Regions from separate parts of the Homo sapiens genome. Here region 1 is linked to region 2. Evidence: fine-mapped expression QTL. Tissue or cell type: subcutaneous fat. Region 2 holds a variant in brackets; the other region holds the start of a gene. All regions are shown on one strand. Distances are between the middles of the regions.

Evidence for each region. PIP is the estimated chance that this variant, and not a neighbour inherited with it, causes the effect.
Region 1: RIBC1 starts here. The variant in region 2 is fine-mapped to the expression of RIBC1 in subcutaneous fat (FUSION, PIP 0.93).

What each region holds. Positions count from the first base shown.
Region 1 is chrX:53,419,149-53,427,326 of GRCh38, forward strand. RIBC1 (RIB43A domain with coiled-coils 1) reads left to right here and starts at 3,725. Exons shown (of 8, transcript NM_001031745.5): 1 at 3,725-3,856; 2 at 4,166-4,254; 3 at 7,129-7,245. The coding sequence starts at 7,129. SMC1A (structural maintenance of chromosomes 1A) reads right to left here and starts at 3,506. Exons shown (of 25, transcript NM_006306.4): 1 at 3,344-3,506. The coding sequence starts at 3,452. RefSeq lists enhancers at 2,663-3,637, 2,754-2,933, 3,054-3,103, 3,294-3,473, 3,638-4,609 and 1 more.
Region 2 is chrX:53,354,901-53,363,078 of GRCh38, forward strand. It overlaps LOC124905191 (a long non-coding RNA gene), which reads right to left. Exons shown (of 2, transcript XR_007068243.1): 2 at 6,623-6,809. Among named protein-coding and RNA genes, the nearest start is that of IQSEC2, 38 kb to the left of the region's middle. The variant C/A (reference allele first, on the strand shown) is at 4,151.

The DNA.
Region 1 (8,178 bases), 64 kb after region 2:
ACTTTGAACTGAAGATCTGATTTCCAACACCTTTCTACTCAGCCATAAAAACAGCAGCCCAAGTCCTTCCATAGAGACGGTATAAGACTATGATTAGGTTGGACACGGCATCTCACGCCTGTAATCCCAGCACTCTGGGAAGCAGACGTGGGTGGATCACTTGACCTCGGGAGTTTGAGACCAGCCTGGACAACATGGCAAAATCCCATCTCTACAAAAAATACAAAAATTGGCTCGGCATGGTGGCACACTCCAGTTGTCCTGACTACTGGGAAGGCTGAGATGGGAGGGTTGCTTGAGCCCGAGAAGTTGAGGCTGCAGTGAGCCATGATTGTGCCACTGTATGCCAGCCTTGGTGACAGAGCAAGACCCTGACTCCAAAAAAAAAAAAAATAGGCCAGGCGCGGTGGCTCACACCTGTAATCGCAGCACTTTGGGAGGCCCAGGTGGGCAGATCACGGGGTCAGGAGTTTGAGACCAGCCTGAACAACGTGGTGAAACCCCGTCTCTACTAAAAATACAAAAACTGGCCGGGCATAGTGGTGCACGCCTGTAATCCCAGCTCCTCAGGAGGCTGAGGCAGGAGAATAGCTTGAACCCGGGAGGCAGAGGTTGCAGTGAGCTGAGATCACGCCACTGCACTCCAGCCTGGGCGACAGAGAAAGACTTCATCTCAAAAAAAAAAAAAAGAAAAAAAAGAAAAGAATCACTTGAACCCAGCAGGCAGAAGTTGCAGTGAGCCGAGGTCATGCCACTGCACTCCAGTGTGGGCGTCAGAGTGAGACTCCATCTAAAAAAGCTTGCAAACTTGGGCTTAGAACCAACAGACCAGGTTCTAATCTTACTTTCACTACCACTTAGCTGACCTTCCATTCCCTCACCTGGAAAAAGATGAAAAAAACCACAATTCACGGGTCTAAAAATATGTGCGGCACATACTTCTCTATTGGAGTGGCAGGAGCACAGGCATGGGTTCTGAGAACCACGGACAAGTTATCACACCTCTGTGCCTTAGTCTCCTCATGTATAAAACGAAGCTATTGGCATTTTCCTCCTAGGGTCATTTTGAGAATTTAATTGTAAAGGGTCCCTTGGCTGGGTGCAGTGGCTCATGCCTGTAATCCCAGCACTTTGGGAGGCTGAGGCAGGCAGATCACTTGAGCCCAGGAGTTTGAGACCAGCCTGGCCAACTGGGAGAAACACCAACTCTACTAAAAATACAAGAACTAGCCAGATGGGGTGGCGCACGCCTGTAGTCCCAGCTACTTGGGAGGCTGAGGCACGAGAATCACTTGAACCCAAGAGGCAGAGGTTGCAGTGAGCCAACATCATGCCACTGCACTCCAGCCTGGACAACAGAGCAAGACTGTCTCAAAAAAAAAAAAAAAGAAAAGAAAAAGAAAAAGAAAAAACAGGGTCCCAATAAATAAAGTACTTGACACACAGAGTAGGTACTCAATTAATTAGTCCTATCCTAAGTCTGGACTCAGCTGTCTCCCTCATCACAGCAGGACTAGCACATCATGCAGACCAGGAGTCAGCCTTTTAGGAACCAATATCCAACCTTTGGGCTTCTCCCATCATTTCCAGGGAGGACAACATCATCTCACAACCCCAAGCCTCTCTAATCACAATCAATATGGTAAACATTTTTGTAATATATATTATGGACTGAACACCAGTAAAACGTTTCAAGGAATGTCTGCTTTAGGGTACTCACAGGCCAATGAAGATACAAAAACATGCACCATCAATATAGGACTTAATAAACATTAACGTGTACCAAGTGTCTACGGTATGCCACAGAGGAAGACTCACTCACCAAAGGGACTAAAGGAATGGCTTGTAGAGGTGGGCCTTGAAGAACGGGGGCAAGTGGGGGAGTGCCATAGCCCTTTTCAGAACAGCTGGGAATACAAATCTACTAATGCTGAGGGGACTGAATGCCAAGAGGTACATCCTAGCTCTTCCAACAGGGGCCACTACACTAAAACCCGAGGAAACTGGGTGGACACCAAGCATTAGCCCTCCAGGCCAGTGGTTCTCAAACAAGTTGGGGGGTTGGGGGAATCACACACACCCTCTGTGACATCTAGCAATGTCTAGAGACAGTTTTGATTGTCATGCCTGGGGAGCAGGGGTGCTACTGTTATCTAGCAGGTAGATGCCAGAGATGCTGTTAAACATCCTACAATGCACAGAGCACATCCCACAGCAAAGGATTATCTCGCTGGAAATGTCAATAGTGCCACTGTTGAGACACTCAGTCTCCAGGAAAGGTACTCAGTATGTGCTACTTCAGCAAGGGCAGCCTCTTAGGCTAGGATATCATTCAGCTAGAACATCTCTGGGGTGGAAGAATACAGCAGGATTCCAAATGGACATCTGAGGTGAGAGGAATCCACGGTGTATCGTTTAGAGTTGGGAAGACACAAAATAGAGGCTTTACCTGACCACCCTTTCTAAAGACACCACCTAAGTCACTTTATCACATCCACCTGTCTCATTTCCTGTATAGCACTTATGACAGCCTAAAACCATCTTATTTTCTCCTTATCTTCTTTCCCCTCTGGAATATAAGTTCCCTGTGAGCATGGAGTTGGTTTATTCTATTCTCCGCTGTTTCCACAACTTGCAACTGAATAACTCCTGATAAACAATAAGCATTCAACAAATTTGGTAAATTAGTTAATTTCGGCTTTTGACGGTTTCGGTGGTAGGAAAAGGGCGAGTTCGAGGCAACTACCTCTGACATAGCGGTGGGGGGTGGGGATCGACACCTCAAGCATTCTAAAGACTGGAGCGCTGGGTCTGAAATTCAAAAGTGCCGCCTCCAGAGAAGAGTAGAAAGGAGTTGGAGTGTACCAATGCGAGGCGAGAGAGGACGCTGGGCTGAAACAGAAGTGCACCGTTTGGGACCGAAGGCCACGGGAGAGCTACCAGCGTCCCCACATTCTCCGGAGGGGGTCAAGTAAGGCTGGGAAGCCGGCTCCGGCCGGTCCGGCGGGGAGCCGCGCGGCGGAGGACTGAGCTGGCGGGAAGCTGGTTCCAGACGCGACTCCTTTGGCGGGAGGGGGAAGTAGGCGGGGTAACTGGCAGCTCGGCCTGTACCACTGGGCCGGGGCGGGGGCCGCGCAGGAAGCGGCAAGTGACACCTGGAAGGGGTTCGAGTTAGAGCACCCGCGCGGGGAGAGTGGGTTCGAGCAGAACCCCCTCTGGACGGGCAAGGAACCCGTAAGGGTCCGCGACGTTTCAGGTTACATGGGCTGGGTTGTACTACTCCGGCACCGGATAAGGGGTCCAGGCCGGGACGTGCGCAGGGCCGCGGCCAGGTTTATCTCACCAGAGCCATTGGGTCCAATGATGGCGGTGAACCTCTGAAATGGTCCGATAATCTGTCGACCCTTGTACGACTTAAAGTTCTCAATCTCAATCAGTTTCAGGAACCCCATGACGGCCGCGGCGCCGGCGGCAGTAGGACAGGCCGCGCCGTACGCCCGAGAACTGAGGTAGCCCGCGCGGGAAACGCCGCAGTGCAAGCCGGGCGACCGGCAAATGTCGCGAGAATACGTCCAGGCCTAACGGGATTTTCGCCTTCCGGCAGGAGTGGGACCAGGGGCGGGGACTGATGTTGCGTATACGAGGAGCGAGCTGACGACTGGCGTGGTGCCTCCGCCCCCCTTTCTTGTTGCATGGCAACAACAAACACTTGCTCCTGCGGACCAGATCCCCGGAGGAGTTGTTGCTGGGCGGAGTCAGAGCAGTTCTTGAGGTTCAAGGAGGCGGGGGAGACCTGAGCTCACGCTTGCTGAGACAGAAGTCACAGCAGGATTATGCCCCTCAGGGCAAGAGGAAGGTGGGAGCTCGGCTGTGGCTTTAGCCTGGCCAGCTTTCAAGGCTAGGACAAGGACAGGGTCGGGAATTGGAAGGACCCGGGGGGAGCGGAGAGCTGGACGGGAAGGAGGGGCCAACGGGAGGATTCAGTGTTAGGTGAGCTCAGACTTTGCTAATGGTGGGGTGGGATTGGTGGCGGGACGGGTTGCGAAGGCGGACGGGTTGTGAATGGGACTGGGGCTACTCCCAGGCAACAGGGATACAGGCTGGGGAAGGCTACGGCCTGAGATACTACCCCTATCCCCTGCCTCCCTCCTGTTGTACCAAGCAGAGTTCAGAAACTGCCGCCGTAACCCAAGAACAAAGTTGCATGCAGAGCCAACCTAAGAGCTTCAAAATCGGGATTCCTTACTGAGAAAGGTATTTTGTGTGAACCCCCAGGAGTCAGGGTCCCTAAGCCAGCGCTCTCCACCTCCACCTACCTCTGCCTCCATGCCTCTCCCCCATCCCATTCCCACAGCTCTATACCACAATGCCACCTTACCTCTCTTCCCTCTCTGCTCTCTATCATTAATAAGGCAGGGGCCTTAGCAATCCAAGAAGCTTAAAATGTCAGCTGAATCTTCCCCTTCAGTGACCTTATACTGTAATGGCAGGTGAAACCAGTAGGTAAGTTGGTGCCATTCTCAGACTTAAACATGGAAAGGATCTGGTGGTTGCCATAATTATTCCTTTAACTATTTATTAAATTATGTCCGAAGGCTAGAAAGAGTCCTAAAGACTTAGGACAAGTCCAGGAAAGTGAGGAAGTGGCTGGGCATGGTGGCTGACAACTGTAATCCCATCGTGAGGGAGGCAGGCCAAGGCAGGAGGATCACTTGAGACCAGCAGTTCAAGACCAGCCTGGGCAACATAGTGAGACCCTATCTCTACTAAAAATTAAAAAATTAGCTGGGTGTGGCAGCTCTCACCTCTGGTCTACCCAGGATGCCGAAGCAGGAGGATCACTTGAGCCTGGGAGGTTGAGGCTGTAGTGAGTGGTGTCCGCACCACTTCACTCCAGCCTAGGTGACAGAGCAATACCCTGTCTCAAAAATAAATAAAGGGAGGAAGCTTGGTAGATGGAATCTAGTAGGGGAGCCATAAATGAAGTTCAGCTGGGAGAAACAATCAGGCTGAGGGGATAAAATGGCTAAAAGACAGCAATCTCATGTAATCCATGGGGAAATACTGTTCCCTTTTAAAAGATGAGATGGTGAGCCTGGGTAACATAGCAAAACCCAATCTCTACAAAAAAATTTTAAAAATTAGGCAGGCATGGTGGCACACACCTGTAGTCCCAGCTACTCAGGAGGCTGGGGCAGGAAGATCCTTTGAGCCCAGGAGTTTGAGGCTGCAGTGAGCCATGATTGCACCACTACACTCCATCCTGGGCAACAGAGAGAGACCCCATCTAAAACAAATTAAAAATAAAATAAATTTTATTCTCTGCCTCAGCCTTCCAAGTAGCTAGGATTACAGGTGCCCACTGCCACGCCTGGCTAATTTTTTTGTATTTTTAGTAAAGACAGGGTTTCACTATGTTGGCCAGGCTGGTCTTGAACTCCTGACCTCCTGATCCACCTGCCTCGGCCTCCCAAAGTGCTGGGATTACAGGCGTGAGCCACCGCGCCCGGCCAAAAATAAAATAAAATTTTAAATTTAAAAAAGATGAGATGGCACTTGGGGGGAAAATTAAATTGGATCCTTATCTCACACCATACACAAAATGCAACTCCAAGTGGATTAAAAACCTAAGTGACGCCGGGCACAATGGCTCATGCCTGTAATACCAGCACTTTGGGAGGCCGAGGCAGGAGAATTGCTTGAGTTCAAGACTAGCTTGGGCAATATAGTGAGACCCCATCTATATTAAAAAAAATTAAATGGGGCCAGGTGTGGTGGCTCATGCCTGTAATCCCAGCACTTTGGGAGGCCAAGGAGGGTGGATCATAAGGTCAGGAGATTGAGACTATCCTGGCTAACACTGTGAAACCCCATCTCTACTAAAAATACAAAAATCAGCCGGGCATATATGTTCAACTACTTCACAGTTACAAAATGGAAAACAAAACAAAACACCAAAAAGATCCAAATAGCTATAGGAGGAATTAAAGAATCACGCTCCAAACAAAGGAACAGCACATACAAAGGCCCCGGGGTGGGAACAATTACTGTGTTGGAGGACTTGATCAGCTTGCCTGGAGCACTGTAAGCAAGGGAGACAGTGGTTTGAGACAAATTGGAGAGGTGTGCAGGAACTAGATCTTGAAAGCCCACAGTAAGGAGTTTGGATCTGATTCTAAGTATAGTGGGAAGCTAGTGGAGGATTTAAGCAGGTGAGAGACATGATCAGATTTATGTTTGCTAAAGTTTTTTTGGCTGCAGCTTTGGCTGGGTTACATGCCAAAAGTGAGCTTCCCAAAATATGAAGGAACACAGGCAAATTTAGCTTTCTAGCCTTTCATTTGACCAGAAAATAAGTAATAAAAGTAAAAAAAAAAAAAAAAAAAAAAAAAAGGGTGGGGGGACATATATTTCAGAAAAGAAAGCTGCTTCTGGTTTCTGTGATTGGGCTATAGGAGTCAATAGAGGAAGCTGGAATACCAACATGGAGACAGTTGTGGTTATTCAGGAAGCTGGCAATGGTGGCTTGGATAAGGGTTATTTTGAAAGAAGAAGGAGTGAGGGAAAGGAAGGATTAAAGGATGTCTCCTAGGTTTTTGACCGGAGCAACTTGGTGAATGGTGGTGCCACTTACTGAAATAAGGAAAACTGAATAGAGTATAATGAAAAAGGAGTGTTGTAGATGTGTTTGAGGCTTAGAAAGGTGAGCAGGGGTCAGATCATGAAGAACCTTATAAATCTGGCAAAGGGGGTTGGGCCTTATAAGCACTGGGGAGCCATTGCTTTAAAGGTGCTTTCAAAGGCTTTACGCTGAGGAGTGCCATGGTCAGATTTGCTTCCCAAAGATCACTCTGGTAGCCAGTGCAGAGAAATCCAGTGCAGAGAGGGTAACGTTGGAGCAAGAGAACCCAGTGGGGCTCCTGAGATACTGCCTGACACCAGATTGTGAGGCCTGAATTAAGCTGGTGACAGCAGAGATGGAGGGCACAGATACGAAATATATCAGGAAGTAAAATCAGTAGGAATCAATAACTGCTGAAATATTATAGGGAGAAAGGAATGGGGGTGGCGTGTAGTCAAAGACGGTGGTCGGCACTGATGGGCCATTCCACCTCCCTTTTGCTCCAGATGTATAACATAAAACAGTCAACAGATACCAAGGAAGCAGCAGCCATCGAGGCTAGAAGAAATCGAGAAAAAGAGCGACAAAACCGATTCTTCAATGTGCGGAACCGAGTCATGGGGGTGAGTGGGTAGTAGGGACTGTTGCTCAGGATCAGGGCCACCTCACTCTTACACCTGGAGAGGAATGTGTAACAGTGCCCATGATAGCCCTTCCCCTGATTCAAGTAGGCCCCTAGGGCAGGAAAGGAAAGAGAGGGAGAGAAGGCACCCACCCCTACAGGCCTGGGAAGAGCTTGGGAAGAGGGATAGGTCAGTGCAGGGGAAGAGACTAGGGGAGACGGCTGACCCTTCTCCAGTCAGCTCTGGGCCATGTGACCTGGTTCTTGAGACAGGCAACATGGAGCTAAAAGAGGCCTAAAGAATATTTGGAGTCCGGGTGCAGTGGCTTACACCTGTAATCCCAGCACTTTAGGAGGCTGAGGTGAGCAGATCACACAAGGTCAGGAGTTAAAGACCAGCCTGGCCAACGTGGTGAAACCCTGTCTCTACTGAAAATACAAAAATTAGCTGGGCGTGGTTGTGCATGCCTATAATCCCAGCTACTTGGGAGGCTGAAGCACAAGAATCACTTGAATCCAGGAGGAGCAGGTTACAGTGAGCCGAGATCACACCATTGCACTCCAGCCTGAGCAACAGTGAGACCCTGTCTCAAAATTACTGCATATACCTAAACTATCTCTGCAAGGCTATGTTGAGAAACTTAACCAGGCTGAGAGACAGAGATGGAAGGGACACTTACGCCTCACTAAACTGTATTCCTTTTTGTATGATTTTGAAATGTGATAAATGAATTATAATAAAAGAGAAAATATTGATAGTTTAAGAAACAAAAGATTGCTAGGTGAGTGGATAGAGGGGGGATGCAGCATGGTATTCTGGAAAAGACCCCGTAAGTATTTAAGGCCAGGTCTGCTGACTGTTATGTGTGTGGCTTTGGATAAATCACCTGTCTTCTCTGAGCCCCAGGCTCCTCTTCTGTAAAATGAGGCTGAA
Region 2 (8,178 bases):
ATCTTATGTGTGCATTACATACTCCAAAATTCCCCTCAAATACTATTGCTTCCCAAAAGCCTACCGTGCTTTCCCTTACTTCTCTCAAACAACAATCTCTCTTTATGCTATCTCCTAAAATTAGACATAGAGAAAATCAAACCTAAACCCTGGCCAAACAAATCTAAACAAAGCAAGAAAAAAATAAAATAAATGCCAAAACCCACGCAGAAAGGAATTCCGTAAGTATATCCACTCAAAGGAGTATTTTGTGGCCATTTAAATGATGTTTATAAAAATTTTAATGGGAAATGTTTATGTGAAAATGGCAGTATGTAATTGAACATACAGCATGATCCCAAATACGGTTTTTCTAAGCCTAGATAAAAGCCTAAATACACCAAGATACTAACATTGGTTGTATTTAGATGGTAGGACGTTTTTCTTTCCCTAAATTTTCATCAATGAACACATTACTTCCGGTGGGACAGAAGTCATCATTAGTTTGTTCAAGGCTCCTCTCTTGATTCCTTTCGTTTGTTAATTTTATTTTTTCTCCTGTATTTCTACTCCCTTTACACCCAAAGACAAACATTTCAATGTATTTAATGAATTTAGCTTCTAACATCAGAAACATTTGCACATGTGTATATATTTTAAGGAGTTCCTAAGAATTTTTTGAGACAGAGTCTTGCTCTGTCACCCAGGCTGGAGTGCAGTAGTGTGATCTTGGCTCACTGCAGCCTCCACTTCCCAGGCTCAAGTGGTCCTCCCACCTTGGCCTCCCAAGTAGTTGGGACTACAGGCGTGTGCCACCACACCTGGATAATTTTTGTTGTTGTTATTTTACAGACGGGGTCACAATATATTGTCCAGGCTGGTCTCAAGCTCCTGTCTTCAAGTAATCCACTCGCCTAGGCCTCCCAAAGCACTGGGATTACAGGTGTGAGCCACCCTGCCCAGCCTTTTTTTTTTTTTTTTTTTTTTTTAATACATAAAAAGTGCCCCATCTGGCCTGGCATTCTAGCTCTGGGCCATCCACTGCACAATGTCACAGTAGGTGCTCAAAATATAATTTCTTCTCTCTCTTCTACCTTGACAGCTATTTCTCTAAGACCCAGGTTCCAGGCACGACTTCGCCATTAACTACCCTGTTGTCCAAAGGGAATACTGAGAGGACGACACAATGTGAAAAGTGACGGAGTTGATCAGAGTTGGGCGCCCACCACATCGGTACTTAGCTGTGTAGCTTTGACAAGTCACCTAAGTCTCCCTGTGCCTCAGTTTTCTTACCTATAAGGGGGAGGGGAAATAATATCACCTACCTCATAAGGCCCTCACTTTCTATCCGCACTTCTCTTCTACCACGGCTCCCTGCTCAAGACCTATCTGGTTTGGGATCCTCGGCCACCTTACTCTGCGTCAGCTGACACAAGCCACGCCCCCATAAACCACGCCCCGGGGCGGAGGGAAAACTGTTGCTAGGCAACAAGTGACGTCACGCAGGCCCTCGGGCTAGAGTGCACAATCACAGAACTGAAAACAAATTTCATTCGTCATCCAACCATTCATGCTCCTGGATTCCTTCAATGCATATTCGCCGCCCCTTCCTTTTGGGACCATCCAGGTGCTGGGCTTTGCTGAAGACAGAATTCCTGCCCTCAGGGAGCTTCCTATCTGAAAGGAGAGAGAGCCCCAGACAACAGTTCTGCACGGTACAGGAGCAGAGGGGCGCTGTGGGAGCCCAGATGACAGGATCTCATCCAACTTGGGAACAAAGATAGGCTGCGTGAATAAAGTGACACTTCAACAGCTGAATTAATGGGGTTTGGGTGTCAGTGTGAAAGGCCTTTCATGCAGAAGACATTGCAAAGACACCTGGGGGGAAAAAAAAACTGGTGCAGTCTAGGAAGCACTTGTAGTTAGTTGCACTTATAGTTATGTGCTCAGTGGTCAGAGCACAGGGTGTGAGGCCAAGAGTGGCAGGTGATGAGACTCAAGAGGTCTGGCAGGGGCCAGAACTTATGTGACCTTAATGACCTATCAAGCAGCTAGACTTTACCCTGTGGGGTATGGAGTGTCATAGAAGGAAAGGTTGTGTTGACTAGCATCAATGCCCTCTTACTGCTGATGTGCCAAGTATTAGGTTGAAAATGGCCAGTCTGGAAGCCAGGGAGTAGATTTGGGGTCATTCATGTGAGGGATGTTGAGGCTGGAACAGGATAGTGGCAGAAGATGAGGAAAGAAGGTAGATTTGACGTACAGAAAGGAGAGACTCAACTGGACTTGGTGAGGAATCAGCTATGAGGAGACAGGAGGATTTTAGGCTGCACATAAGGCAGAGAACACAGAGGAAATTGCACAAGTTTAAGGGGGTGATTAAGACAAAGATAAGTGCCAGAGGAACTCTGAGGGCTGAGAAATCAGTGTGGGATAGAATGGGCAGAAACATGTAAAATGAGGAGGATCATTATGAGGAGGAGGGATTCGGGCTAAGACTCACTGTGTGACTTTGGACCAGTCACTATCTTTCTCTGGTCCTTTAGGTTTCCACCTGCTAAACTGGGAGATGGAGAATGATAATTGGGAGGAATGAATTACATAAGAGAATGTTCAAGAAATGCCTAGCCCTGTAGGCAATATGGATGGGAAGCATGTGGCAGGTTTGTTTGGTCCAGGGTGGGGTGGGGCTGGGCTGCCATTTGGGCAACAGCGATGCCACAGGCAGGAGGACACACATACATGCAGAAAAAAGAGGGCGCAGGGAAGGGGAAATGTGACCTGGGCACATGCATGTTGGATTTGAGGAGCTCAAAGGCCAAGGCAGTCAGAAGCCAAGGCAGTCAAATCAATGCTACTCTGGGAGGCCCTGTCTTGGCAGTTAGCAGAGAGGGGCTTCTCTGGACTGTGACTCCTAGACTGCCACTTCCTCAGGAAATATCCAGGTCTGCAAGGCCCGAGTCCTCTGGGTTTTGTTCCCAAGTCACCACCAGAATTGCTGTGTGAAGCTGAGTCTGTTCTGAACCACTCTGGGTCCAGGTTCCTCATATGAACAACACAAAAAGGCATGTGTGTGTTGGTGGGGAGGTGGACGAAACATTTCCAAAGGTCCCCTCCTGGTTTGTTATGCTTCAGTTCCATGGCCCTAAGTCCTTTTTAGAAAAGTCTAGACCTGTCTCTGACTTGCTGTGTGGCCTTGAGCCAGCTGCTGGACCTCTCTGGCCCTATTTTCATATCTGAAATATTAGGAGATTGGGGAGGAGAGTCTCCAACGTCCAATGATTCTCCCTAGAGGACGCTCACCCTCATCTCCAGCTGAAAGCTTCAGACAAATCAGAGGAAAGTGAGGCGCTGGTCACAGACCACCCCCCTTCCAAATCTTCCATCTTCTCCCACTGCCCTCCCCTCCGCACTGTCAGGAGCTTGCAGCACTGGCTTGCTTGCCAAACTTGTTGCCATGACAACGGGTTACAAATAACTCAGATGCAGACGAAGATTTTAACCCAAGAGCTGCTGGGCCAAGGGCTTCTTGCTCCCTCCTCAGACCAGACTGAGGGAACAATCTGATAGATTCTCACAAGATGGTCAAGGTTTCTCAGTGTCACAAGAAGAAGTCCTGGCATTCCAGGCCCTCCAAAACCCTGATTCAAATCTTTCCAATCACATTTGCCACTTGCTTCCATTAAAAAGCGATCACTCCAAAAAAATTAGCCAGGCGTGGTGGCACGCGCCTGTAGTCCCAGCTACTCGGGAGGCTGAGGCAGGAGAATCTCTTGAACCCGGGAGGCAGAGGTTGCAGGGAACTGAGAAAAAGCCACTGCACTCCGCCTGGGTGACAGAGTGAGACTCCGTCTCAAAAAAAGAAAAAAAAAAAGTGATCACTCCTATTTTTTTGACACCTACTGTATACCAAGCCCTGTGTTGGATGCTTTACATACAGTATCTAAGGAAATCTTCCCAGCACTCTATCAGGTAGACATGACTATTCTACCTGGGACTATATTTTATCTGGAACATTATTTTATAGAGAAGAAAATCGAGGCCCATGGATATGAATTGAGCAAGGAGGTCCAAAGACTCAGAATTCGGACGGGCGCGGTGGGTCATGCCTGTAATCCCAGCACTTTGGGAGGCCGAGGCAGGTGGATCACCTGAGGTCAGGAGTTCGAGA[C/A]CAGCCTGGCCAACATGGTGAAACCCCGTCTCTACTAAAAATACAAAAAAAATTAGTTGGGCGCAGTGGCGGTTGCCTGTAATCCCAGCTACTTGGGAGGCTGAGGCAGGAGAATCGCTTGAACCTGGGAGGCGGAGGTTGCAGTGAGCCGAGATCACACCATTGCACTCTAGCCTGGGCGACAAGAGCAAAACTCCGTCTCAAAAAAAAAAAAAAAAAAAGGAGTCAGAATTCAAACCCAAACCCATCAGATTCCCAAACCCAGGCTTTTTCTATTGCCAATGGTTCACGAATGTTGGTCTACAGACTTGGTGTATCCAGAAAATCTGGAGCAGTTAAAATTCAGATAGTACTGCCGTTCAAGAAGGTGGAATGCATTTGTTTTCTCTAATTCCTAAGACTCCACAAAATAAAAAGATCAAGGGTATAAACTCACAACTCCAAAGAAAACTGGAGGAGCTCCCATCAATGGGAGAGAGATTTCAACAACTTTCTGGCAAGCAGAAAGGGGGCGGGAGGGGTGGTAACTGAGAAGGCAGTGCAGGGGAAGGAATGAGCAGAGTCCACATGTGGGAAGGGATCCACCGGGAGAGAGCTCATCTACCCTGCCAAATCCTGGAGAGGTGCAGTAAAGGTATCCTGATGTGGGAGCAAGACATAAAGCCTCAAACATAATTGAAAGTGTGTGTTGGAACGGTTAATCTCCCCCAACTCAATGTTGGAACAGTTAATTTCCTCCTTATCTCCCCCATGCTCATGGGTAGAAATCACAGCAGCCAACAAGTCTCTACACTCCAGCAAAATATCAGCGGGTTCTCCAAAGAAACCAAACAGTCCCAAAGCAAAGGCCTCTATTTTCGGTACTTAGGGGTCCTCCAGCAGATTGTACAGGTCCTTACTCAGTCACTTTAATGGGACTTGACAAACACCTGCCCTTACACAGGGCTCCAAATCAATCAACTTTTTATTTATTTTTAAAATAGAGACCAGGTTTCTCCGTGTTGCCCAGGCTGGTCTCAAACTCCTGGGCTCAAATGATTCTCCCACCTTGGCCTCCCAAAGTGCAATGATTACAGGTGTGAGCCACCATGTCCGGCTCAACTTTTTATTGTGTTCTTCTTAAATCAATGGGCCAGGCTGGGCACGGTGGCTCACGCCTGTAATCCCAGCACTTTGGGAGGCCGAGGCAGGGAAATCACCTGAGGTCAGGAGTTTGAAAGCAGCCTGGCCAACATTGTGAAACCATGTCTCTACTAAAAATACAAAAATTAGCCGGGCATGGTGGCAGGCACCTGTAATCCCAGCTACCTGGGGGAGGCTAGGGCATGAGAATCGCTTGAACCCAGGAGGTGGAGGTTGCAGTGAGCCAAGATTGCGCCACTGCACTCCAGCCTGGGGGACAGAGCGAAACTCTGTCTTAAAAAAAAAAAATCGGCCGGGCGCGGTGGCTCACGCCTGTAATCCCAGCACTTTGGGAGGCCGAGGCGGGCGGATCACGAGGTCAGGAGATCGAGACCATCCTGGCTAACACGGTGAAACCTCGTATCTACTAAAAAATACAAAAAATTAGCCGGGCGTGCTGGCGGGTGCCTGTAGTCCCAGCTACTCCGGAGGCTGAGGCAGGAGAATGGTGTGAACCCGGCAGGCGGAGCTTGCAGTGAGCCGAGATCCACGCCACTGCACTCTAGACTGGGTGACAGAGCAAGACTCCGTCTCAAAAAAAAAAAAAAAAAATCAATGGACTGATAGGTTTGAACATTTGTGAAGAAATATGCTAATAGATTTATGAACGAACGGATGAAACAAATGGGAAAAACTAAGATTAGGCACATTTCCAATGTGGAAAAAGTCCAAGCAATTATTAAAATCAGGAATATAAAAAAATGAAAAAAAAGGTAATTATAGTATACTTCTTGGCTCTGTAGTGACTACTGATTTACTAGGAGTTTGGATATAAACATATTGGAAGAATGAAGGGAGGGAAAGTAGGGTGTGTGTGTGGAAGAGATAGAAAAGAGGTAAATCCTGTTCTACCATAAGATCTCAAGAGATAATGTCTCAGATTGCTAAGTTAAGAAATAATGGTGGCCAGGCACGGTGGCTCATGCCCGTAATCCCAGCACTTTGGGAGGCTGAGGTGGGCGGATCACTTGAGGTCAGGAGTTCGAGACCAGCTTGGCCAACATGGTGAAACCCTGTGTCTACTAAAAATACAAAAATTAGCTGGGTGTGGTGGCAGGCGCCTGTAATACCAGCTGCTCAGGAGGCTGAGGCAGGAGAAATGCTTGAACCTGGGAGGTGGAGGTTTTAGTGAGCCGAGATCGTGCCATTGCACTCCAGCCTGGGCATTGCAGCGAGACTCTGTCTCGAAAGAAAGAAAGAAAGAATGATATAAGCATATGACAAGGAACCATGGCGGTCCATCAAATAAAAATCATTTCAGCTACAAGTAACAAAAAACTCAACTGATAGTGGCTTAAACACATATGGCTTTATTTATTTTTTTAAGTTAACAGGAACTGTGGCATGGGTTCAGCTGCTCAATGATGCCATCAAGAAATTGGGCTCTTTCTGACTTTCTTCCTTCACATGTTGTCTTCTTCCTCGTGCTCATCCCCACATGGTCACAAGATGGCTGTCACAGCTCCAGACGGCTTGACTATATTCAAAGCAGAAAGAAAGAAGGGGACAACATCAGCTATTTGTGCCTCTGCTCAGAAAAGCAAATACTTTTTCAGAAGGCCCGCAGCAAACATCTCACTGGCCAAAGCCAGGTCACGTAGTCATCCTTAGCTGCAAGGGAGGCTAAGAAAGTATCTGGTTCTTCAGCCTCTGAGTGGGAGGTGGCAAGGAACAAGGGATTTGGAAGTAGTTGCCTCTAGGGAGCAGGACTTGCAGTGGGAAGGAGTAGGACAGGATATTGTTGGATTTTATTAGGCATCTCTTAGCACTGTTTTATTTTTTTAAGTATGTATATATATTCCTTTGATAAAAAATAAAAATTAGGCCATGTGTGGTCGCTCACACCTGTAATCCCAGCACTTTGGGAGGCCAAAGCGAGCGGATCACCTGAGGTCAGGAGTTCGAGACCAGCCTGGCCAACATGGTGAAACCCTGTCTCTATTAAAAATACAAAACTTAGCCAGGCATGGTGACACACATCTGTAATCCCAGCTACTCCAAAGACTGAGGCAGGAGAATTGCTTGAACCCAGGAGGCCGAGGTTGCAGTGAGCCAAGATTGCGCCACTGCACTCTAGCCTGAGCAACAGAGCAAGACTCTGTCTCAAAAATAAATAAATAAAATTAAATTTAAATTAAAAAATAAAGTGTTATGGTTTCTATGAAAAAAGAAATCTTAAAAATAAAAGCTGGTAATAGTTTTCTATCTCCAGAGCAAAGGATAGCAATTCATCTTGGAAGCAAACTTACCAGAATACGCTCTTTACTTAGACTGAGGTATCTCAGGTATCCACCTACTGATCTTAGAGAAAATTGTGCTATCACTATTAACCTGAATGTGGCTGGTGGAAACCAGGACAGCTCTGTACAGCAGTTAACATGGGTTGACTGTGGTTAGACAGTCCTGGTGCAATTTCCTGTCTGCCATTTATTAGCTCTGTGACCCTGGGCAAATGACACCCGGGAGCTTCATTTTCCTTGTTTATGAAATGAAAGTAACTCAAGTGCCTGCCACAGAGTAAGCACTCAGCAAATATCCACTATGATTAAAATGTTAAATGTTCTGTGTACTGATATAATCTGGGTGTCCTTTACAGTACTATGCTTCCACTGAGTTAATTTTTTATCCTAAACATGAATTGGGACTAGATTCATGTTTAGTCCCAATTCATGTTGGGACTAAAATGCCAAAGTGAAAATTGTTTGTTTTTGAGAGGTATGTGTGCATATTTTTTCTCAGGCCTTTGCTCACAGAAGATACCCCATTGGGACCACATCAGGAGACATGCAGGTTTGAAATGCTATGGACTCCTGTTGGAGGAAGCACTGTAAAAAGGAATGAGGCTG